3 separate regions of the Homo sapiens genome follow, and regions 1 and 3 are each linked to region 2. Evidence: fine-mapped expression QTL. A gene starts in region 2. Each other region holds a variant in brackets. All regions are shown on one strand. Distances are from middle to middle.

Region 1 (9,939 bases), 59 kb before region 2:
TAGACTTGCCACATTTCTGCACCAAAAGCTCACTCTCATGGTTGGAACAGAGCCAAGCAAAGGGCACAGTAAATTGTGGTTTCTTCCACTCCTCATGTGTCTTCAGATGAAATCATTCTTTCCAATAATCCCAGAAATTCTTTCTCTCCTCTCTCAAGCATGTGAAAAGGTCCAGAGCTCTGCAGTGTGAGCTTTCTACTGAAATGGCCCTTGGACTTTGTGGTTCATTCATACTCAGTGGTCTAGCTTGTACTACTTTTGAGAATGCAAAGCTTAACTGTGGACGGATTCCAATCCTGGCCAGGCAGGGTTGCTGGACACTCTGAGAGAAGAAAGGGTTAATCCCATGACCATCAACTTCCATGGGATTTCAGCCATCCTGGACAAGCTACCACACCCTCCTGCCCCAGGGGAGGAGGAAATGTGGACCATCCCATCAGATATTGACCAGGTTTGGCTCTTTAAAGAGGGTTACATGCAAGAAAATAAAATTTTTTAAAAAGGTGCTGGGCAGGTGGGGGACTCAGATGTAATGGAAAAGTGTCTTTTCTAGAAAAGAAAAGCTAATTCTAATATGTGTCACTACCCCACGAGACAAATATATACATCTTGATTTAAAAAAGGAAAATTATAATTAGAAAAAGTCAATTTAGTTATTGTAATTATACCACTAATGAGAGTTTCCTACCTCGAGTTTCAGGATTACATAGCCATGCACCAAGCAAGGCTTTGAAAAATAAAGATACACAGATAAATTATTTGGATAGATGATCAGACAAGCCTCAGTAAAAACAGCCAAGACAATCAGGATATAATGTGACCATAGGAAGCTGGGGAGACAGTAGGCAATGTGCATCCATGGGACAGCATAGAAAGGAGGGGCAAAGTGGAGAGAGAGCAACAGACACTGGGATGGTGACCCCAAAACAATGAGGGCCTAGAATGACATAGTTGTGCTTCATTACGGCCCATTCCCAGGGCTCTCTCTCACACACACAGAGCCCCTACCAGAACCAGACAGCTCTCAGAGCAACCCTGGCTCCAACCCCTCTTCCCTTTCCAGAGGACCTGAACAAGGTGTTCCCACCCGAGGTCGCTGTGTTTGAGCCATCAGAAGCAGAGATCTCCCACACCCAAAAGGCCACACTGGTGTGCCTGGCCACAGGCTTCTTCCCTGACCACGTGGAGCTGAGCTGGTGGGTGAATGGGAAGGAGGTGCACAGTGGGGTCAGCACGGACCCGCAGCCCCTCAAGGAGCAGCCCGCCCTCAATGACTCCAGATACTGCCTGAGCAGCCGCCTGAGGGTCTCGGCCACCTTCTGGCAGAACCCCCGCAACCACTTCCGCTGTCAAGTCCAGTTCTACGGGCTCTCGGAGAATGACGAGTGGACCCAGGATAGGGCCAAACCCGTCACCCAGATCGTCAGCGCCGAGGCCTGGGGTAGAGCAGGTGAGTGGGGCCTGGGGAGATGCCTGGAGGAGATTAGGTGAGACCAGCTACCAGGGAAAATGGAAAGATCCAGGTAGCAGACAAGACTAGATCCAAAAAGAAAGGAACCAGCGCACACCATGAAGGAGAATTGGGCACCTGTGGTTCATTCTTCTCCCAGATTCTCAGCCCAACAGAGCCAAGCAGCTGGGTCCCCTTTCTATGTGGCCTGTGTAACTCTCATCTGGGTGGTGCCCCCCAGCCCCCTCAGTGCTGCCACATGCCATGGATTGCAAGGACAATGTGGCTGACATCTGCATGGCAGAAGAAAGGAGGTGCTGGGCTGTCAGAGGAAGCTGGTCTGGGCCTGGGAGTCTGTGCCAACTGCAAATCTGACTTTACTTTTAATTGCCTATGAAAATAAGGTCTCTCATTTATTTTCCTCTCCCTGCTTTCTTTCAGACTGTGGCTTTACCTCGGGTAAGTAAGCCCTTCCTTTTCCTCTCCCTCTCTCATGGTTCTTGACCTAGAACCAAGGCATGAAGAACTCACAGACACTGGAGGGTGGAGGGTGGGAGAGACCAGAGCTACCTGTGCACAGGTACCCACCTGTCCTTCCTCCGTGCCAACAGTGTCCTACCAGCAAGGGGTCCTGTCTGCCACCATCCTCTATGAGATCCTGCTAGGGAAGGCCACCCTGTATGCTGTGCTGGTCAGCGCCCTTGTGTTGATGGCCATGGTAAGCAGGAGGGCAGGATGGGGCCAGCAGGCTGGAGGTGACACACTGACACCAAGCACCCAGAAGTATAGAGTCCCTGCCAGGATTGGAGCTGGGCAGTAGGGAGGGAAGAGATTTCATTCAGGTGCCTCAGAAGATAACTTGCACCTCTGTAGGATCACAGTGGAAGGGTCATGCTGGGAAGGAGAAGCTGGAGTCACCAGAAAACCCAATGGATGTTGTGATGAGCCTTACTATTTGTGTGGTCAATGGGCCCTACTACTTTCTCTCAATCCTCACAACTCCTGGCTCTTAATAACCCCCAAAACTTTCTCTTCTGCAGGTCAAGAGAAAGGATTTCTGAAGGCAGCCCTGGAAGTGGAGTTAGGAGCTTCTAACCCGTCATGGTTTCAATACACATTCTTCTTTTGCCAGCGCTTCTGAAGAGCTGCTCTCACCTCTCTGCATCCCAATAGATATCCCCCTATGTGCATGCACACCTGCACACTCACGGCTGAAATCTCCCTAACCCAGGGGGACCTTAGCATGCCTAAGTGACTAAACCAATAAAAATGTTCTGGTCTGGCCTGACTCTGACTTGTGAATGTCTGGATAGCTCCTTGGCTGTCTCTGAACTCCCTGTGACTCTCCCCATTCAGTCAGGATAGAAACAAGAGGTATTCAAGGAAAATGCAGACTCTTCACGTAAGAGGGATGAGGGGCCCACCTTGAGATCAATAGCAGAGGTTAATTCAGCGTGAAAGGCAGTGATGGGAGCTGAAGAGGTTACTTCTAGAACAGTCTAGGAAGACACAGATGTTGAGTATAGGAATTTTCTATATCCAACTATACTGTTCTGCCCAGGAAAGACGTGCTCAGAGGAAGAGCCAACCTATACAGGTGTGTTCACCCTCCAGCTGGCCATGTCCCCGTGACTAACAAAGCTGGATTCCATAAGCATCACCCACCTTCCTTGCAGCTTTCTTATTGAGCACTCCATTCATCTTCATTGGTTCACCAAGTTGATTTCCCAGCTCCAAAGAAGAGAGGCTCTGACTTGCAAACTTATTTTCAATGGAAGATGTGTCTTCCGGTTTAAGTTACCCATCTGTTTATAAATCTCTCTCTAGTGAATTAAACCAGAATGAAAATGTCCCCTAATCATTCCTGGAAGGTTAGAAAATAAAGGTATCTAAAACTGAGAATCAGCCCCATTCCTACTTCTAGAATTCCTTCAAAAGCTCCTTCTGTTGTCTCACTGTCACCATGGTGATGGAGTCCCAAATCCCAAAGGTGGCACAGAAGACCGGATGATTATCCTTGTCTCCTTCCACACTCTCCTCACTTCTCTCATCCCTGAAGCCCCTGAGCTGCTTCTTTCAGGCCGCTTTGCACATGCTCTTCCTCCTGGGGTGACAAAGTACTCTTCTCCCCATGATAACTCCTGCTTAGACTTAAAGATTTAGCTCCAATGTCTTCCCCTCCAAAAAGCTTTCTCTGGCCCTTTCTTGCCTCTTCCTTACCTCTTCCTCCCTTGAGGCTGGATTAAATACACCTTTATTTTGCTATCACAGTGCCTTGTGCATAACCTTCTTTGTGATACATCACACTTGCTGGAAACTACCTCTTTATTTGTCTGACACCCCCAGGGACTATGAACTCCTTGTTAACAAGGATACATTTTAAGATAGTATCCCAGGGCTATAGTATAGTAACCTCAGTTTAGTGTAGACACCACATAGGTATGTATGAATAAATAAATGAATAAATGAGTGAACCCAAACTGACCCAATCCAGGAGCAATCATCACCGTAAGTCCTGCCTGAAATAGCCATTACCCTTCCATTTATAGGACTACACCACACAGTCTTCCCTCTTTATTGCAACACATACATGCATTCAAAGATGCGTGTGTGCATGTATGCACACGCGTGTATATGTTTATATTTACACACATGTACACACATCCACTCATTAAACACATATCCCTGTGATGTGTTGTTATCAACTTCCAAGAAAATTAAGATACCCAAATTACAGTCCCCAAGAAGC[G/A]TATCTGTTCACAGAGCAACTCAATCATGAACAGAAAGAGCCAAACGCAAGTCCATGCTTTGAAAGAGCAACATGAACTGCTTACTAAAATGCAGTCAGAGAGTGGCCCTCAATTTCTCACTGGGATAATCAGTAAAGAGTCTGAGAAGGTGGCAATCTCTTCAAAGGAAGAATTGGTCTCAGTTGTTCACTCTAGAGAATGGCCATGCTGGTCAGAGGCATGAACAAAAGCCCTAATGACATGGCTAGGTACCTCTGGGTAGGCCCGTTTAGCTGGTTGCAAGGTTCAGAAATGGGAGTGCTCAAAATTAGCGCTGGAAAGGCAGGTTGGTGCATGCCACTCTGGGAATAAACTTACCTCCATGCAACCAGCATGGAGCCTGCACATGGTGGATGTTCACTAAACACCTGTGGAGTAAATGAAGAATATGGAGTTCAGACATCGTTCAGGAAGCAACTGAACAAAGGGAAATTATAGAGGTTTCTGGATTGTTTGTCCTCCTGTCATAAGGTGCCATCAACTGCTCTGTGGATTTTCCTATGAGCTGCCTGCCACCCCTCGCTCCTCCCACCCACTTCACTATAAATGCCAGTCTGAGCAGGTGGGCACAGTGAGCCCCACCAGGGAGACCCAGTGACATAGATGGTCTGCTCAGGGTGATGCATGTTCCAAGGAGGGACCTCTCTGCCCCCCACCATTACCATCACTGTGACTTTCCCCAAGCCCTTCCCATTTTAATTCACTGCCTTTGTCTTTTCCAAGCCCCACACAGTCAGACTAACCTCTGCCACCTGCGCTTCCTGCCGCTGCCCAGTGGTTGGGGGAGGGGGACTAGCAGGGAGGAAACATTTTTGTATCATGGTGTAACATTGTGGGGACTAGCGGGAGGGCACGATGATTCAGGTAGAGGAGGTGCTTTTACAAAAAACCCTGATGCAGTAAGCATCCCCACCCAGCTCAGGGAATGCAGCTACCAGGTGGGAAGAGTTCTCTGGGGCTGGTCCCAGCTGTGGTCTTGCAGGGTCCCCCAACCCAGCGAGCACCTGTCCATCTCCCTGTCCAGACTCGGCTTCCAAGGAATAAGAAGGCCAAGACAGCAAAGTGGGATTATCACTCAGCACTTTTAATAAAACTTGTTCTTGACAAAGTACTTGCACATGCATTATTTATTAAGAACTGATGAAAACCCTGAGGGAAAGATATTGTCCCATCTTTCCAATGAGGAAACTGAGATCAGAGGTTACAGGTCATATAACTAGGAAACGGCAAGGTCTAGCCTGCAATATCGCCCAGCTCCAGCCGTTCCAGTACCACCAATGCCCCTTCAGATTTCAAATCCACTGTGTTGTCCCCCAGCCAAGTGGATTCTCCTCTGCAAATTGGTGGTGGCCTCATGCAAGATCCAGGTTACCGTGTCCAGCTAACTCGAGACAGGAAAAGATAGGCTCAGGAAAGAGAGGAAGGGTGTGCCCTCTGTCTGTGCTAAGGGAGGTGGGGAAGGAGAAGGAATTCTGGGCAGCCCCTTCCCACTGTGCTCCTACAATGAGCAGTTCTTCGGGCCAGGGACACGGCTCACCGTGCTAGGTAAGAAGGGGGCTCCAGGTGGGAGAGAGGGTGAGCAGCCCAGCCTGCACGACCCCAGAACCCTGTTCTTAGGGGAGTGGACACTGGGCAATCCAGGGCCCTCCTCGAGGGAAGCGGGGTTTGCGCCAGGGTCCCCAGGGCTGTGCGAACACCGGGGAGCTGTTTTTTGGAGAAGGCTCTAGGCTGACCGTACTGGGTAAGGAGGCGGTTGGGGCTCCGGAGAGCTCCGAGAGGGCGGGATGGGCAGAGGTAAGCAGCTGCCCCACTCTGAGAGGGGCTGTGCTGAGAGGCGCTGCTGGGCGTCTGGGCGGAGGACTCCTGGTTCTGGGTGCTGGGAGAGCGATGGGGCTCTCAGCGGTGGGAAGGACCCGAGCTGAGTCTGGGACAGCAGAGCGGGCAGCACCGGTTTTTGTCCTGGGCCTCCAGGCTGTGAGCACAGATACGCAGTATTTTGGCCCAGGCACCCGGCTGACAGTGCTCGGTAAGCGGGGGCTCCCGCTGAAGCCCCGGAACTGGGGAGGGGGCGCCCCGGGACGCCGGGGGCGTCGCAGGGCCAGTTTCTGTGCCGCGTCTCGGGGCTGTGAGCCAAAAACATTCAGTACTTCGGCGCCGGGACCCGGCTCTCAGTGCTGGGTAAGCTGGGGCCGCCGGGGGACCGGGGACGAGACTGCGCTCGGGTTTTTGTGCGGGGCTCGGGGGCCGTGACCAAGAGACCCAGTACTTCGGGCCAGGCACGCGGCTCCTGGTGCTCGGTGAGCGCGGGCTGCTGGGGCGCGGGCGCGGGCGGCTTGGGTCTGGTTTTTGCGGGGAGTCCCCGGGCTGTGCTCTGGGGCCAACGTCCTGACTTTCGGGGCCGGCAGCAGGCTGACCGTGCTGGGTGAGTTTTCGCGGGACCACCCGGGCGGCGGGATTCAGGTGGAAGGCGGCGGCTGCTTCGCGGCACCCGGTCCGGCCCTGTGCTGGGAGACCTGGGCTGGGTCCCCAGGGTGGGCAGGAGCTCGGGGAGCCTTAGAGGTTTGCATGCGGGGGTGCACCTCCGTGCTCCTACGAGCAGTACTTCGGGCCGGGCACCAGGCTCACGGTCACAGGTGAGATTCGGGCGTCTCCCCACCTTCCAGCCCCTCGGTCCCCGGAGTCGGAGGGTGGACCGGAGCTGGAGGAGCTGGGTGTCCGGGGTCAGCTCTGCAAGGTCACCTCCCCGCTCCTGGGGAAAGACTGGGGAAGAGGGAGGGGGTGGGGAGGTGCTCAGAGTCCGGAAAGCTGAGCAGAGGGCGAGGCCACTTTTAATCTTTTTTCTGGGGTGTTTAGAGAGAAGGTGAACGATGGAGGAGAGGATTTGTTAGGACTCTGGGAGAGGCGAGACTGGAGAGGACGAAGGGAAATCCTGGTTTGGGGAATGGGTAGGAGTGGGGGTAACTGCTATTCGTAGGCAAAAAGAGCTGAGCAGGCTGGGAACAGCGCGGGTGGGCAAGGGTCAGCACTGCGGGCAGGCGGGTGGGTGTTAGGGGGCAGAAATCCTGCAGCCGAGGGTGCAGTAGAACACAGAAGAAAAAGCCTGCCAAACAAAAGTGGAACAGAGAAGCCAAAAAGGGAGATGAACATGAGTCAGTGAAGAAAAGAATGAAAGTTTACTGTTTAGCAGTGTGGATCTCTAATCCGACTTAAAACTCCTTGTTCCCGATTCCTATTCCTCCTAAGCCAGAGATCCCTGGGTCCAGGGTGAGGGCACGGCATTCATGCTTACCCACGGGCTGGTCAACAAAGAGGTGCTGACCTGAGAGTAGGGCACATAACCTCAGCCACTGGGGTACACTTACCACCCCCGCCCCCGTGTAGCTCCCTCCCCTATCCTGAAATCTCCCTTAGCACACTAAGTATTCTAGGTTAAACAGCCCAGATGTTCAGGGAGTTCATTCGCCACAAACACACATTAAAATGCAGACAATTTGCCTGTGAGATGAGGAAAATTCTCTGGAAGATTTAGGCCCTGAGAGCTGAAAAGGGACCCTAAACATTACCTGGTGACAACTGCCCTGAGGCCAGAGAAGAGAACTCACAATATTGGTATATTAACCGGTACCATTTGTAGTTAGGCTGTCATTAATCTGGGTGTAATGGGGCTCAGCTACAGAGAAGCGTATCCAGAGGAAATGTGGGGTTCCTGCAGTCAGCTGGGGCACCGAAAAGACCCAGACTTTAGAACCAGATAAAGGCTGAGTTCGAACCTCTGGTTCTTTTGTGATGTGGTGACCTTGGGCAAATTAATGTGTGAACCTCAGTTTCCTCAACTATAAAATGTAATGAACAATACCTACCACTTACTATTGCTGTGAGGAAGAAAAGAGAGTCAACATGTACCGTGTACAGATTATTGATGTAATTCAATGGTTCTTTTCCCCATCCTCCTAGGAGGTCACTGGGGAGACAGGGGGCAGGGTCAGCCCAGTGCCAAAGGATGGGCAGGATCTGAAGTGTGGAAATGGAGTAAGGCTGTGTCTGTGTCAGAGGTGGGTTGGGAAGATGTGAGACAAACATCACAATTTTGCCTAAGGTGAATCCAACCCACAAGTAGAGCACAGGCCAACAGCAGCTCACTAGTACACATACTTACACCAGCAGCTCACTAGTACACACACTTACACCAGACGCTCACTGGTACACACTCACACCAGAAGCTCATTAGAACACACACACCGTCAGCTTGCTAGTACACACACTTACACCAGAAGCTCACTAGTATACACTTACACCAGAAGCTCACTAGTACACACACTTACTCCAGAAGCTCACTAGTACACACACTTACACCCACAGAGACAAGCCCCACACCACACGGACTCACAAATGCAGAAGAAGAGTTGACCCTGCCCTCATGTACAGATAGTATGCTGGTGTGTAGTGAGAGGCGGCTAGTGTTCGCCACGCCTGTTGCATCAATAACTATTCCACAGAACAGCATACATGGTCAAGGAATATTTTTAATATTTACAATGAGGACTGAGTGTTTGCTAAATGAAGAAATCAAAGGAGTACATTCTGGAGGGCTGGTAGACTCCCAGAGCCAGGGTTTTTGAGATGAGAGTGAAAATAAGCAGGCTGAGAGCAGAAAGAAAGAAAGTTCTGCAGATAGAAGTTAGGATATTACCACTTCGGCCCCAGCCCAGCCAGTAAATGTTTAGAAGCATAGTAGTAATTAGCAGGTAGGAGTTGTGGGGAGGAAAGGAAACTGACATGATGGGAAGCAGGACCAGCTACAAAATCTTCAGGACCAGCTCAGAATGAAAATGCCGGGGCTCGTGTTAAATCTTAGGATTTCAACATGGTGACAGCAGAGCACTAAACCAAGCAGGGGGCCCTTCTAGCAGGAGGCCCCATGGGGACCTAGGAAGGAGGTCACATCCATACAAATGTAAAGAAATGTCAGAGTAAATTTCCTCCATTGTCCAGGAGATTCGGAATAGGTTCTCCTAAGACTGATATTTCTTCATTTTAATAGAGTTGCTCAGAAATGAAAAACAATCAATGGGAAGAAAAAGAAAAAAAAAAAAGATAAGATGAGTAGGAGGGCAGGTCCAAAAGAAGTGATTCAGCAAAATGAAAGGGGTCCTCAGGGATTAAAGGGGATGAATTTACCTGTCATCCCTAAGAATCTACAAAGGAGATGCTCAGGACAGAAACTGTATCAACACAACTAGTAGCAAGAAGTTACTCTGATGATATCAGATGTTTATTTGGGAAACTTGCTAGTAGAGAAAGCTACATATAATATTTGGATGCAAAGGGACACAGAAGGTTGAAGAGTCCCTAATTTTGAAATAAGGGAAGATGACTAACTGTCTGAGCTGAGAAAACTCAGGGGTACCTGGAGGCAGAGGAATGGATAAGATGACTTCATGCACCACAAAAAGAAAAAACCTCACATTCTCATGAACGCACTGTAAAACCAAAGGATGTCCTCATGTGAATGCAAAAAATAGGCCATCTGTAAATCCAAAGAAAGCCCCCAGATCTAAAATGTCTCCCTCATCCCAGATTCCCCTTCATTCCTGAGCACCTTAGATTTGGTATAAATAACCTGCTTGGGAGGGGGCTTTTTGAATTCGTACATAATTTAACCTTCACACAGTTTCTGCAAAGTCAGAATGGTGATTATTA
Region 2 (5,000 bases):
CTTTGTTTATGACAACATCAGCTTACATTAGCTGTTCTAAGGGGAAATAAGGAAGAAGAAAATTGCACATCCTAGGGGAGTGAGCAAAGCCCAAGAAGGAGGCAAAAACTCAGAAAAAATGAGGCAGAACCAATCTAGGAGCCTTCCTATCTCACCTGGAGTTTTCTACTCAGCAGTTCCTTTTGGTTCCAAATTTACATAATAGATTGTTGTGTGCCAGAAATGATTAATTCTGTGAGCCATAAACTTTATTAGGTCCTGCCCATTAGCAATACTCCAGGGTTTTTTTTTTGAACAAGTCAAAAAAAAAAAATATATATATATACACACATATATATATAGAAAGAAACAGGGTCTCACTCTGTCGCCCAGGCTGGAGTGCAGTAGGACAATCTTGGCTCACTGCAACCTCCGCCTCCCGGGTTCAAGCGATTCTCCCACCTTGGCCTCCTGAGTGTCTGGGACTATAGGCATGCATCACCATGCCTGGCTAATTTTTGTATTGTTTGGTAGAGATGAGGTTTCACCATGTTGGCCAGGCTGATCTCAAACTCCTGACCTCAAGTGATCCTCTCACCTCAGCCTCCCAAAGTGCTGGGATTACAGGCATAAGCCACTGTGCCCATCCACATAGAAAAAGTTTAAATATTATTTTTTATTGATTCATTCTATAACACTTCTAAGCACCTGGAGTGTCCCAGGCACCAAACAAATTATAGCAAAAAATTTACATTAAACTTTAAAAAGGAATTCATTACTTTGCTTTTTAATAGCTGCAGGTTGCAGCATACTTTAACAATGCATTCTATGCTCTCCACCTACCATTAAAACTTGGTTTGATAAGACATAGGCAATTAGGATGCAAAGCCGACTAATCACAAATTTAAACCTCTTTGCATCCTGAGTATGACACTTCCTTTGAAAACTAGATGCCTCTCAAATTTTATTAACAAGACAAATATAACTAATTACACAAGCCTTGAGCAGCAAAAACTTCATTTCATATTATAGTCACCTAATATGAGGTATATCATGAAATAGAAAAGAAGGCAGATATTTTTACTGTTATGTCAATACAGGATACGTTGCAAATTACTACAGGAATTTCTGGGTTTTATAAAGTAACAACTACGGTTTGGTTTTGTCCATATTTTTATTTTAACATAATCTAGTTATGTGTCTTTTTTTTAAGTTTTCAATATAACCATAGATGTCTAGCAATCAGGCATGTTAATGTATGAGTTACGTAATTCCACACACAATGCAAATTCTGTTTCTTTGCAGAAGTCTTTGAAAGCCTTGGAGATAACCAGAAAATGAAGGAAGCCCTCCACCACTGAGTTTCAGGGCAAAGGGAAGAAACAAGATAAAGTAGAACCGTCAGTACAAGTGGAATTATTAATGACGTCCAAATGCAGTCATTAAATACTATCAGACTTATTTATTGACTCCTGATATTAAGAGTGAACAAACCCCTGGCCAAGTGGGAACTTGCTCGGTAGCCTTTATCTTTCTATCACTCATTCAGTCAATTCATTAAAGCCTGTTTGTCTCTCCCAGGTGACTCTTACTGAGTTTCATTGTTTTGTTTATTGTGTTTGTTGGCTCATAGATCTCTTTCACAATTTTCTTCGGCTTCTGAATGCTCTTTAAGTACCAGTTTTGATCAGCCCATTTGCTTTAATAAACAGGAGAGCAAGATGGGACAGGGCGATACAGGGAGAAAAGGGGGCAAAGGGAATCGCACCGGGTGCTTGTGCTCCCTAGAAAAACCAGCAGGTGGTAGCAACACTTCGTGGCAAGGCCCCAGCCCAGCTCTGTAGGACCCAAACAATAGACCCCAAATCCCCGTCCTCGGCTAGAGAAGGGGTTAGAGGTGGGCGGAAACACTTTTCCTCGCGGCGCCCCCTCGGTTCCTCAACCCTGCCTCCAGGCGCCAGCTGAGAGCACCTTGCACCGCCCCTCCTCACTGCAGGGAGGTTCTCTCCGGAGCGCGGGCGAGGGAGGAGGCACCCAGAGGTGCAGCGACTTGCCCAAGCCATGTCAGAGCCAGGCGTACAGCAGCGCTTCCCCTTTTCAACCCGACTGCCCTGCCCCTTGGGGAGGGTAGATGGAGGGAGGTTCGACTCAGAAGCCCCAACGTTGACCAAGATCCAGACACGAAAAGAGAAAAGAGTTCCCGGCTAGCACGGCGACGCTTTCATACCGAGACGCCCCCCTCTCCCGCTGCCTCGGCTCCCCCTACCACCGCCCGTACTCTCCCAGATTTCTCAGTTTGTCTTTCCCTCCACCCCCTGCTTTTCCTTCCTTCTCTCTTGCTCAGCTCACGCCCACCTTAGTTCCAAGCTGAGTAGGAGCCCCACTGTTTTAGTTCCTAGAGTTAAAGCCGAAGAGGAGGGAGGCGCGAGGGGGTGTGTGCAGGGCTCTGCCCTGCCCTGAACTGCCACGGTCCGCCAGTTGCGCTTCGCTCCGCGGGTGTCCGACCCAAGCCGAGCCCGAGCCCGAGCCCAGGCAGGGGCTTTACAGACAGCCTCTTCCCTTCCCACTTCCTGCAGGCGCCCCACGCGTGCGATCCTCCCGGCCAAGACCCGCGGGAGGAGGCCGCCCCCTTCCCGGCGCACAGGCGGGGCCCCGGGCGCGCCCCGCGTCTCCCCCGCGCGCCGGGGCGGAGGAGCGGGCGCCGCGCACTCACCGCCTAGGCCGGGAGGGCGGGCTCGGCTCCCCGGAAGAAGGGAGTGGGAAGGCGGCCAAAGGGGCTGAAGGGGCGGGCCGGGCCGGCTTGGGAGGGGACGCGGAGGGGGCGGGCCGGGCTGCGTTCGCTCCAGCCGCGGCTCTACAGCAGCGGGCGGCGGGACCCGGGACCCAGCTTGGCGACGGCGATCTCGACGCGGGCCCCCAGGATCTCCCGGCGCCCCACCTCTGGAGCAGCCCCTGCCGCCAGCGTCAGGTCCACCCCGGAATCCCAGGGACTCTCGGCGCCGAACGGACCCGGGCCGGGTGCAACGGGGTCCCCGGACTGGAGAAGACGCGGGTGGCACCGTGCGAGCTCCAGGAGCCCCGGGTCCACTGCGAGGCCTCGGGGGGCGCAGACCTGCAGAGACTGCGGCCAACGGGAAGGTGAGCCCGCGGGGTTAGCAGGCGGCGTTGTGGGGGTCGGGGACAGTATGCTTGGGGACAGAGGAATTAAGGTTTGCAAGAGTAGTGGGGCTCCTCAGCCCCTAGGTGGCTTCCTGAGGGAGTACTGAGGATCCTTCCTCAAGGCCAGAGTGGGGTTCATGAAGGGTGAGGAAACGGTCAACCTGGCTACTCCCCTCTCACTCCACTCTGACCTGGCATCATTGACACCGCATTACCCTTGCTGTTAGGATCCCCCAGTTGCGTTCCCAGACATTCTCCTCTGGCTCTGGCTTGGGAGTCCTAATCTGGGAGGGTCCTCGCAGAGACGGAGCTCCACGCTTGGAACAGGATTGCCACCCCTCTGACTCCAGTGGCATCACTCCAATCCCCTTGGAGCTGGGAGGAGTCAGGAGGCTGACCACACACCTGTCCCCTGCTCCCCACAAGGCACTGTCCCCCCCAGCTCCATGACCACAGTTAAGCCTTGGAGGTGGAAGGAACGCTTGGTTCCTGCTGCCCAGCCATCACCCCCAACGTGCAACCAAATTCTATTGCGTGCTCCTGCCCCAGCTCCACCCTCGCTCTGCTCCCTCCATCTGGGTGCTTGGCCCTGCTTGCCCCACACCCCCACCCACCGATCTTGGCCGTCTGGCACCCTCTCTCCTCCCATCCCTGGGGGAGCTGGCATGGACCCAGCATAGCAATGTTGTAATGTCCCTGGCAGCGCCCATGGAGCGGAGCTGCTGGGTCTGTTCCCAGTTAACCCAGGCCCTCCGCCCGCCAGGGGAACTTGACTGAGGCTCTAGGAGGGGAGATGCTGGTCCTGAGCTGAGAGACCAGTGGGAGGGAGCTGTGTGGGGCTGTTAGTAGACCACAGAAGCTGCCCAAGTAAGGGGCATTGGAGCATTGAGGCTTCTGAGTGCTGCTCAGTGGGGCCACTTGGCTTTTCAGAGCAGTGGGCCTTTTTTCTCAAAGGAAGATTAGCGTGGGGGTGTCTATGTACTTACCTGGTGGCCTCAGAAGGAGGACTTGTTTGGAGTCTATTACTCCATTCAGGGTGCAAAAAGATGGTTGGCAATGACACTGAGTTACCAGAATGCTGGGGAGCAACAGGCTGGGGTGGGCTGAGCATGGGAAAGGCAGGATCCTCCTTCTGGGACGGCTGTTCTGCTATCACTCTGTCCTGAGCCTGGGCCCTAGACCCTGAGTTCCCACTCTAGGTAGAAGGAGGATGGCAGGTTCTGGAGGGTTTGGGAAGCCTCAGGTTTCCCTTTCTTTACCCACTCCTCCCCGCCCCCCACTTGGCTCCCTCTCCCAGCCCAGGTGTTTCTGCAGAAGTACCTCCTGGGGCCAAGAGCAACTCACAGCCAGACTGGGGGTAGAGCAGGGGCCGAAGGTGAGGAAGAAGGGCCCATGGAACCACTCCGGAACCAGCACTGATGTGCATCTTCTGCCACAGGAAAGCAACAGCCCCCATCTACACAGACAGCATCTGCTCCCGCCCACCTCATCTCATACACATTCCCTTACACACTCCACCAGGTAGACACACATCCTCAGGCACTGCTGACGCAGGTGCTACTCCTGGCACTCAGGGGCTTTCTTCCACAACCTTCCACTTACTCATCTCTCAGGCACATTTGCCTCCTGCCTTAACACCCTCCCTTATGCTCTTTTCCAGAGCCACGCATGTCCCCGGTCAGTGCACAGAGTGGCTCATTCTAAGTGGCTGTCTGGCTAGACCTAGACACTGCCTGCATCTTAAAAGCCTCCCCCAGCTCCACAGCCTGGGAGTGGGAGGCACATTTGTCTGAGTCACAGTGCTCTGGGGGACATTCTCAGGGGCTGGAGGCCTCCAGGGACACAGGACTGTCCTCTGCTAG
Region 3 (8,783 bases), 130 kb before region 2:
TCCTGGGTCTTTATCTACAATGGTCACTCTACCCAGAATACCATTTCTCTCTCTGGTATTCATCTGTTCTTCCAGCTGCTCTTTTTGTGCAGACTGCAGCTGGCTGTGCAGCACTGTGGATAAACTGCTGGTGCAAATGTACAGAGAGGTCTGGACTGGGCGACTCCAGGAATGGGGGAGATTCTCCTTCATAGACCAATTTAGAAGTCACTTCCTCCAAGACGATTGCCTTGAATCATTGACTGGATTATTTCTCCGCTGTGTGTTCTTCTAACAGCCTGAACAGAGCTAACACCAACACCGAGACACCACCATGAACTCACCAGCCATTGACTTCTCTGTTCTATAGCTTTTTGCCTCTTTGGAATAGGCATGTCATGGGTGCAGGTATGACGTCCTTGAACTTGGTTTGCTAGACCCTACATTAAGCCTTTTTCTGGTGGTTACACATCAGTATATTTCCTAAGTTCTCTCTTTTTAGCCACAATGTCCATGAATGCTGGTGTCACTGAAATTTCAGTTTATCAAGTTTCAGAGTCAGAATATAAAGTTCTATATTACAACCAGAATATGTTTTATGACCAATATGTGCTGAGCCAGACAAGAGGCAGGAATGAAGCTCCAACTAATCTATTTCTCAGTTGGTGCTTGGAGTACAAACAAATAGAGAGTCTCTAATAGACCTGTGTCTCTTGAGATAAGACTGAGCATTTCTTTTTTTTAATATATATATACTTTAAGTTCTATTTCTTGCAACCTCCAGACATCCAGCCCTTCATAGACACTGCCAGCCGTTAACCCGAAGCCCTGCACAGCCACTTCCTCTCTGAACAGAAAAGACTGCCACAAGGGGAGAGACGGTCTTACCTTCCTGAGCCTGCCCTTGCCAGAGGAAGCCACTGCCACCGCAGAAGCACTTAGGAGCCTTTCCCACCTCCTTGCACTGAGACTTATGGAACTCTTGAGGGCCCTAGTCTGTAAAAGTCCATCCCCGGCCTGGCGCAGTTGCTCATGCCTGTAATCCCAGCACTTTGGGAGGCTGAGGTGGGTGGATCATGAGGTCAGGAGTTCGAGACCAGCCTGGCCAACATGGTGAAACCCCATCTCTACTAAAGATACAAAAAATTAGTCAGGCATGATGGTGCACACCTATAATCCCAGCCACTTGGGAGGCTGAGGCAGGAGAATTGCTTGAACCCAGGAGATGGAGGTTGCAGTGAGCCGAGATCGCACCATTGTACTGCATCCTGGGTGACAGGATGAGACTCCGTCTCAAAAAAAAAAAAAAAAATCTATCCCCAGATCACGGTGCGCCTGTGAGACAGAGCTGTCAATGTCCTCTTTCCCTTCCTTCTCATTTGCTGTTTCAATAGGGCTTCATCAGCCTGAGTTCTTTATTAGAATTGACCTGCATCAATCCAGTGCCCCCCTCATACCACCTACTAGGGAAGGCTGCATTCTACATTACGGTCTTCAGGGATCCTCTCTGGGGCCCCACATGCTTCCCTTTTTGTTTACCTGTGTCTCGGGGCAATTTTAATCTTAGTCTTATACTTTTCATTTAAGCAGGTTAGGCTACACTATACACTTACAGATTTTGCCAGTAGAAGCTTTGAGACTTCACATCTTGTAAAATAAAAAAAAAAAATTGTACTAAAGATAACAATGTTTATGGTTGTGAAGCTTTTTTTGTAAGCAAATAGTCTGGTGAAACTGAAGTTCAAAGGTGTTTGTGTTGGGTAGCTGTGTCAGTATGCTTGATTTATGGTAAGGCCAAGTCTGTTGGATTAGATATTAGATATTCACAGTAATGTCAAAACTAAGGAATATAGTCTGAATAATTACAATAACTATTTTATATTATTGCAAACAACTTAAAAACTATTGTGACTTGATTGATTCATACTATGCATGGATACAGTTTCAAAACCTGTTTAGACCATCAGAAAGTTTTAATGAATAATGTTAGCAAAATAACCACAAGTAAAGTGTTACCGGAAAATGCAGTATAAGCATCACACTGACAGTTGTAGCTGACCCTTTTGTTTTGATCAGTGGTTCTCGATGTGTACCAAAATTACTTGGTGAGATTTCTTTTTATTGTGGGAATAACACTTAGCATGAAATCTAACCTTTAAACAAAACTAATGTGCAATATGATATTGTTAACTCTAGGTACAATGTTGCATAGCAGATTTCTAGAATGTAATTATCTTGTATAATTGAAACTTTACACCAATTGAATGGCAGCTCAGTTCTTCCTTCTCCCATTTTCCTGGCAATTATCATTCTGTTCTCTGCTTCTCTGTGTTTGACATAATGCTAAGTGAAATGAGCCAGTCACACAAGGACAAATCTTTCATTGAAGGAGTCTTTTATCACCAAAAGTATTTAGAATTCCTGGCACTTGGTGATAATAAAAGCAAAACCATTTCACTTGGGTTTTATGATTGTTTTAAAATGCTTTGCACCCTTTATCGCTTGCACCTGGGGCTGAACACACCTACCACCCCATTATTGATATACCACCATCTCCCCAACCCCATCAGGTAAACCTACACATGTGAGCACTCACATGAACCTACACATGTGGATTTGAACCAGATTCAAACCCAGGCAGCATAGTTCCAAAGCCTGCCCTATTACCCAATATGCTACTTGTAGTAATTATTAAGTATATTGTATGAGAAACTAAGACTGCTCTCAATAAAATATATGTTGAGAGTGAGGAGAGACAGACAGAGAGAGAGAGAGAGAGAGAAAATGGTAAGGTTTTCCTAATCACAGTTGGTCAGGAAAAAAATTACCTTCACTTTCAAAGACTGAGACTCACCAGAAGGACTCATGGGACTCGGCGTGTCCTTGTACTCATAGCAAAGATGTATCACAAATATGTAGTAAGAATACTATGATCACAAGGAACAAAGACATGGTGGACTTTGGAGAAATCCATGTGAGACTTCCTTATGTTCTCTTCCATGAGAGAGCACACTCTCACCCCAACAATGAAAATGCAGCAACGTGAGAACAACCTTTCTGCCCAGGGAAGCTCATTAGAGACTCAGCACCTCCAATACTTTCAGTGGCTGGTGTTAGGTGCTGAATCGTGTCATTAAACATTCATATGTTGAAATCCCAGCCTCCAGTACTAAGAATATGACTATGTTTGGAGATAAGGATTTTACAGAGGTGGTTAAGGTTAAATGAGGTCCTCACTAATATGACTGGGATCCTTATAAGAAGAAATTAGGACACAAACATGCATAGAGGGAAGACAATGTGCAGACACAGGGGGAAGCCATCTACAAGCCAAGGAGCGAGGCTCCACGAGAAACCAACCATGCTGACACCCCGATCTTGGATGTCTAGTCTCCAGATGTATGAGAAAATACATTTCTGTTGCTTAAATGACCTAGTCTGTGGTGACTTATGGCAGCCCTCGCAAAATAATTCAGCTGATCACATTGGCACCCTCTGCCTATCATGCAGCATAATTCCAGACTTGACGTAAAGCAAGTGTTCAGCCTAACCCACGTGGTTTGTGCAAGCAGTCTAGACACACTAAGCCATGCTTACCAGTTACTATAGTGGGAACACTCCCAAAATTCAAGTTCGCAGATGCAAATCAAGAGCCAACCATGCAAGCAGTCCCTTCTAAGGCCAGCAGTCTCAGGCCCGCTGTGTCAACTCTTTTCTATACGTGCACATACACACAGTGACACTTCCATGAGCACAAGGGATGTCCTTCACTCTCTAGCACCTCTAGACCCTTTCTAGTCTAGACAATGGCTGAGGGATTATGAGAGTGGGCCGGGACAATGACATCACAGACCATCAACCCACTGCCTGGTCCTGGGAGAAGACCTATTCTTTCTTCAAAGCAGCCATGGGAATCAGGCTCCTCTGTCGTGTGGCCTTTTGTTTCCTGGCTGTAGGTGAGTCCTGGGAGTTGCTGGGTCTGGGGAGTTGGTGGCAACCCCTGTCCTACTATTTTGAGGTCTTTTATACCAAGCTCTTTTCTCCTCTCCTCCTTGATGGCCTGTTTTTCACCCTTGCTTTCTGTCTCTCACAGGCCTCGTAGATGTGAAAGTAACCCAGAGCTCGAGATATCTAGTCAAAAGGACGGGAGAGAAAGTTTTTCTGGAATGTGTCCAGGATATGGACCATGAAAATATGTTCTGGTATCGACAAGACCCAGGTCTGGGGCTACGGCTGATCTATTTCTCATATGATGTTAAAATGAAAGAAAAAGGAGATATTCCTGAGGGGTACAGTGTCTCTAGAGAGAAGAAGGAGCGCTTCTCCCTGATTCTGGAGTCCGCCAGCACCAACCAGACATCTATGTACCTCTGTGCCAGCAGTTTATGCACAGCGCAGCACAGCCGCATCCTCTCTGCACAAAAAGAGCGGACGTAAGAGAGAAGGGGCCCTAACTCAGGGCTGGTGCTGGCTCCGATGGCACATTCGTGCTAAATAGAAAAAAAGCGGCCACTAAGGAGAAACTAGCTCCATAAGCACACTTCTTTGCAAGGAGAGAATGAGGTATTATTTTTCACCCCTTTACAAGTCAGGGACTGTTCTGGATTTAATTCCCCCAGTCCGATGTGTTGTAAATTCACGAGTCCCAACAAGGAGGAAAAGTCCTCTCGCATATTCACAGTGTAACCCTGTTCTACCATTTCGTTAATCAATTTTACCTTCCCTTTTCTATCCTCGTCTCTCTTAACTGTGCATTTTCTACTTTGCTTAGTGTTTTGCTCTTGGTTGACATTTCACTAGAGGACATTAACATATTCTAAATTCTTTCGATGATTTTTACTGTGCCTGTGCTGATTCAAGAGAAAGTTTGTGGAATTTGAATTTTGTTCATTCAATTTAGAAAGAGAAAAACTCTGATTAAAACAAATTCTTCCAGGTTCTCCGATCAATCATATTTTGCTGGAAAAAATTCTGATCACAGAAGGTTTAAACTCTGCTGCAGAAGGTGGTAGGAATTTGGTTATAACTGAACTCACAATCTTCTGGAAAAAGTGTGTATTTGTCTGTCTTTAAGAATAAAACATATGCTCTTCTGTCAGTAAAAATTAACAGTGCTTTGGAAATACAAATAAATGTAAAGGGTATTAGAAATCCCAAACTGCAGAGCACTTGCACAATTATTATTGGCAAGACAAAACAGGCATCTGAAAACGTATTTTGATTCAGTGCTAAATTTTTGTGTGGAAGAAGTCAGAGAAAAAAATTGAATGAATGTGTATCACAATATTCAAGATTAAGTTTGTGTGAGATAGGACTTGAGCTGATTTTGAATACAAGTAAATGAGGGAAGAGAAACCATCAAAAGGAAGAAATACCCTGCAAATGTTTCTGTGAGAGAGTCTACCAGAAGGAAGAGGAAGATTCTTTCCCTGAGGAAAGACAGGAAT[C/T]ACAATTCTCCTGGCCGAGGTCAACATCCAGAACAGAGAAAGCACATCTTCCCAGAATATCATTAAAATCCTTTCCCTTTTGCGCCGAGAATACATGCTAGCGGTGCTTGCGGCTGCAGCGTTTCCCCTGAGATAACACACAAGGTTTGATACAAGAAATTCTTTCTCCACCTTCTAAACATTACAGTGCTTAACTCCTACATCCTGTTCAAGAAGGAGAATTCTGAGCACACGGTTTGCCATAGAAACTTCAGACTGACATTGATTAAAAGGATGCTGAAAAAGCATCGTGAGCCAGGGCAGCAACGTCTCTGGGGTCGTCCACGCTCTGATGATGTCACACCTCTTGGCCCACCTGGAAGACATTTTCCCAACAGCATTACCACCATCAAAGAAACAAAACCCAACTGGTCACTGCACTTTTGCTGCTCACACAATGACGAGGATGGCAAGATCTATAGAGAACGGCAATATTTTTGTGCGGAATGTGATGTTTCACTTTCTGTTGTTCCGTGCTTTGAAATTTTCCCACACGAAAAAATTATCTAATAGTGATTATTATATACATTTCTGTGATGTTAGGATTAGAGGCCAGTTCTGTTTAGAAATAATTCCAAGAACAGTTTTTATATTTTATTTTCATGTTGATAATCAGTCAAATTTGCTTCAGCCTCAAAGAGCATGTTTATGTCAAATTAAATGAATGCTGGCAGCGAGCTGCACTTTTTTTACTAAACAGGAAAAGGGTTAAATAACAGAACACTGTATCTACAGATTTTCATATTCAGTGAAACTTCAGGTTTTCTGAGAGTCCTACATTTTCCCACAGATTATTTATTTCTTATAGCAAGTATTGCCCAGACTCAGAAGATCAACTGCAAGAGATGGGAACAGGTACCAGCACTTTGCGTCCATTCCCAGGGCTATGTGGGACCATTTCCAACACAGGGGTCATCACCTCAATTGAGTCCCTGGTAGAAAGAGTGCTATGCCAGACTCAGCTTCCCTTCTGGCATGGTTACCACCTGCTCCCTCCAACACAGCCTCACCTTGCTAAGAAAATGCAGCCCAGGGAGAGAGGAAGAACACATAAAAAAATGAAAATGAAAATAGGCAGAGATGGAGTATCAAACATCAAAGTGAGTAACAGAAGACATCTAAAGAGGTCAAAAGGATTGTAGATTGGGATAGGAGGTTTGAATTTAGAAAAAAAATGAAAAAGTGTTCACGGGGGAGTTCACAGTTTACAGAATAGACTTTTTTTTTCTTCTTCTTTTGAAATGGAGTCTCGCTCTGTTGCTGAGGCTGGAGTGCAGTGGCACAATCTTGGCTAATTGCAACCTACACCTCCCAGGTTCAAGTGATTCTCCTGCCTCAGCCTCCCGAATAGCTGGGATTACAGGCGCACGCCACCATGCCTGGCTAATTTTTGTTATTTTTAGCAGAAATGAGTTTTCATTATGTTGGTCAGGCCGGTCTCGAACGCCTGACCTCTTGATCTGCCCACCTTGGCCTCACAAAGTGCTGGGATTACAGGTATAAGCTACCACGCCTGACCCACATAATAGACTTTTAAAGGCACATAATAGATCATGGATGTTTACCATGAGGGTACAGAGAATAATTCAGAAAATGTAAACCATTATTTCACTAAACATACATAAACATACATCACATTAGGAGACCAACAAATTCACAGAACATAAAAATTGATACTCTAAATCTCCAAGTAAGCAATGTTTGTTTATCTATTTATTTATTTTGTTTTACTTTAAGTTCAGGGATAGATGTGCAGAATGTGCAGGTTTGTTACATAGGTATACATGTGCCATGGTGGTTTGCTGCATCTATCAACCTGTCATCTAGGTTTTAAGCCCTATAAGCATTAGCTGTTTGTCCTGATGCTCTCCCTCCCCTCGCCCCCGACCCCCAACAGGCCCTAGTGTGTGTTGTTTCCCTCCCTGTGTCCACATGTTATCACTGTTAAACTCCCATTTATGAGTGAGAACATGCGGTATTTGGTTTTCTGCTCCCATGTTAGTTTGCTGAGGATAATGGCTTCCAGCTTCATCCATGTCCCTGGAAAGGACATGATCTCATTCCTTTTTATGGCTGCATAGTATTCCATGGGGTATACATGCCACATTTTCTTCATCCAGTCTATCATTGATAGGCATTTGGGTTGGTTCTATGTCTTTTAAGCAATGTTTTAAATTATGTGATTTGGGAAAATATAACAAAATAAATTATTTTTTGTTGAATGGGAGTATTAACAGGGCTCTTTGATGGGACATGGCTGGGAAGATGTCTGGCCTCTTCCTGCAGGGAACAAGGAAAATTTAGAGAAGGAGGCAATTTTTTTTTCTCTAGAGTCCACTGAGATATCACAGGTAGTTTATACATATAAAATACAGCAGCCCTGACATACAGATATTATTTTCTCCTAATTAAAAATAAATTTAAATAAGTGAAGTGTAATTAAACCTAAATTTAAATGACTTGCCTATAACCTCACAGCTGAAAAGTTAGTGGAAAGGCATGTTTCTATATTGTTTTTTAAATAATAAGATAATTGAATCCAAGATAGGTATATTTCCATCTTCAGCTGAATGGGTCCCAAGACCAACCATTAGGTGAAAGACGTAATCCACACAGCCAGGGAATTCTACCTTCTACCTTTGTAACAGCAAGATAGCCATAGCACCAAAGACATTTTTAATGTCTTAGCACAAGCTTCTAACACCTCCATTTTGAAGTAGAAGGATGAAGGCTTGAGAGCAGAAACTGGATCTTGTTAGTGATGGACAAGTGGACATAGTCATATTAATTGTGCGTTTTACAAGATTCTTTGATAATCACTATTAAACCAGCTGTAGATACACTGTATCATCATTTATCTCCCATGTCACCATCATATCATAAGATTAACATTGATGACTTTGAAAATTTGCTGCTAAAATTAAATTATCTCAATTTTCCAGTATCCTCCTAACTGACCTAGCCAATTTTGTATGGCTTGAAAAATTGGGAAGTCTTCTCATCTGTGCTAGATCTTCTTCAATTAATTTCAATTCATTAAAACAGAAATAGCAAGAAACTAAGAGTCAATGGGGTTTCTTCATCCCATCATTCCCTATAAAGGGCAGTGACAAGCACCTAGATGTAACATAGATTTCTTCTGCCCTCTGTTGAGGGCATCAGAACTGGCTCAGTTCACTCAGACATCGGTGGCAGAAAGTTGAGGGAGATTTCCTTTATGCTTAAGCCTTCAGTAGAATAAACTGGTACCTGTTCTATCCAATGGATGCTGTCTTATTTAACTTGGGACACTGAAGGGGTACTATTCACTAATGAAAA

The links. PIP is the estimated chance that this variant, and not a neighbour inherited with it, causes the effect.
Region 1: its variant is the best candidate, but not a certain one, in a credible set for the expression of EPHB6 in whole blood (TOPMed, PIP 0.88).
Region 3: its variant is the best candidate, but not a certain one, in a credible set for the expression of EPHB6 in whole blood (Lepik 2017, PIP 0.84).

The regions. Positions count from the first base shown.
Region 1 is chr7:142,790,631-142,800,569 of GRCh38, forward strand. LOC124901762 (a long non-coding RNA gene) reads right to left here and starts at 6,061. Exons shown (of 2, transcript XR_007060565.1): 1 at 5,978-6,061; 2 at 5,352-5,620. It also overlaps TRB, TRBC1, TRBD2, TRBJ2-1, TRBJ2-2 and the pseudogene TRBJ2-2P, and 5 more genes. The variant G/A (reference allele first, on the strand shown) is at 4,200.
Region 2 is chr7:142,852,269-142,857,268 of GRCh38, forward strand. It overlaps EPHB6 (EPH receptor B6), which reads left to right and starts at 2,808. Exons shown (of 20, transcript NM_004445.6): 1 at 2,808-3,117.
Region 3 is chr7:142,716,794-142,725,576 of GRCh38, forward strand. It overlaps TRB, TRBV28 and the pseudogene PGBD4P1. Among named protein-coding and RNA genes, the nearest start is that of PRSS1, 28 kb to the right of the region's middle. The variant C/T (reference allele first, on the strand shown) is at 5,427.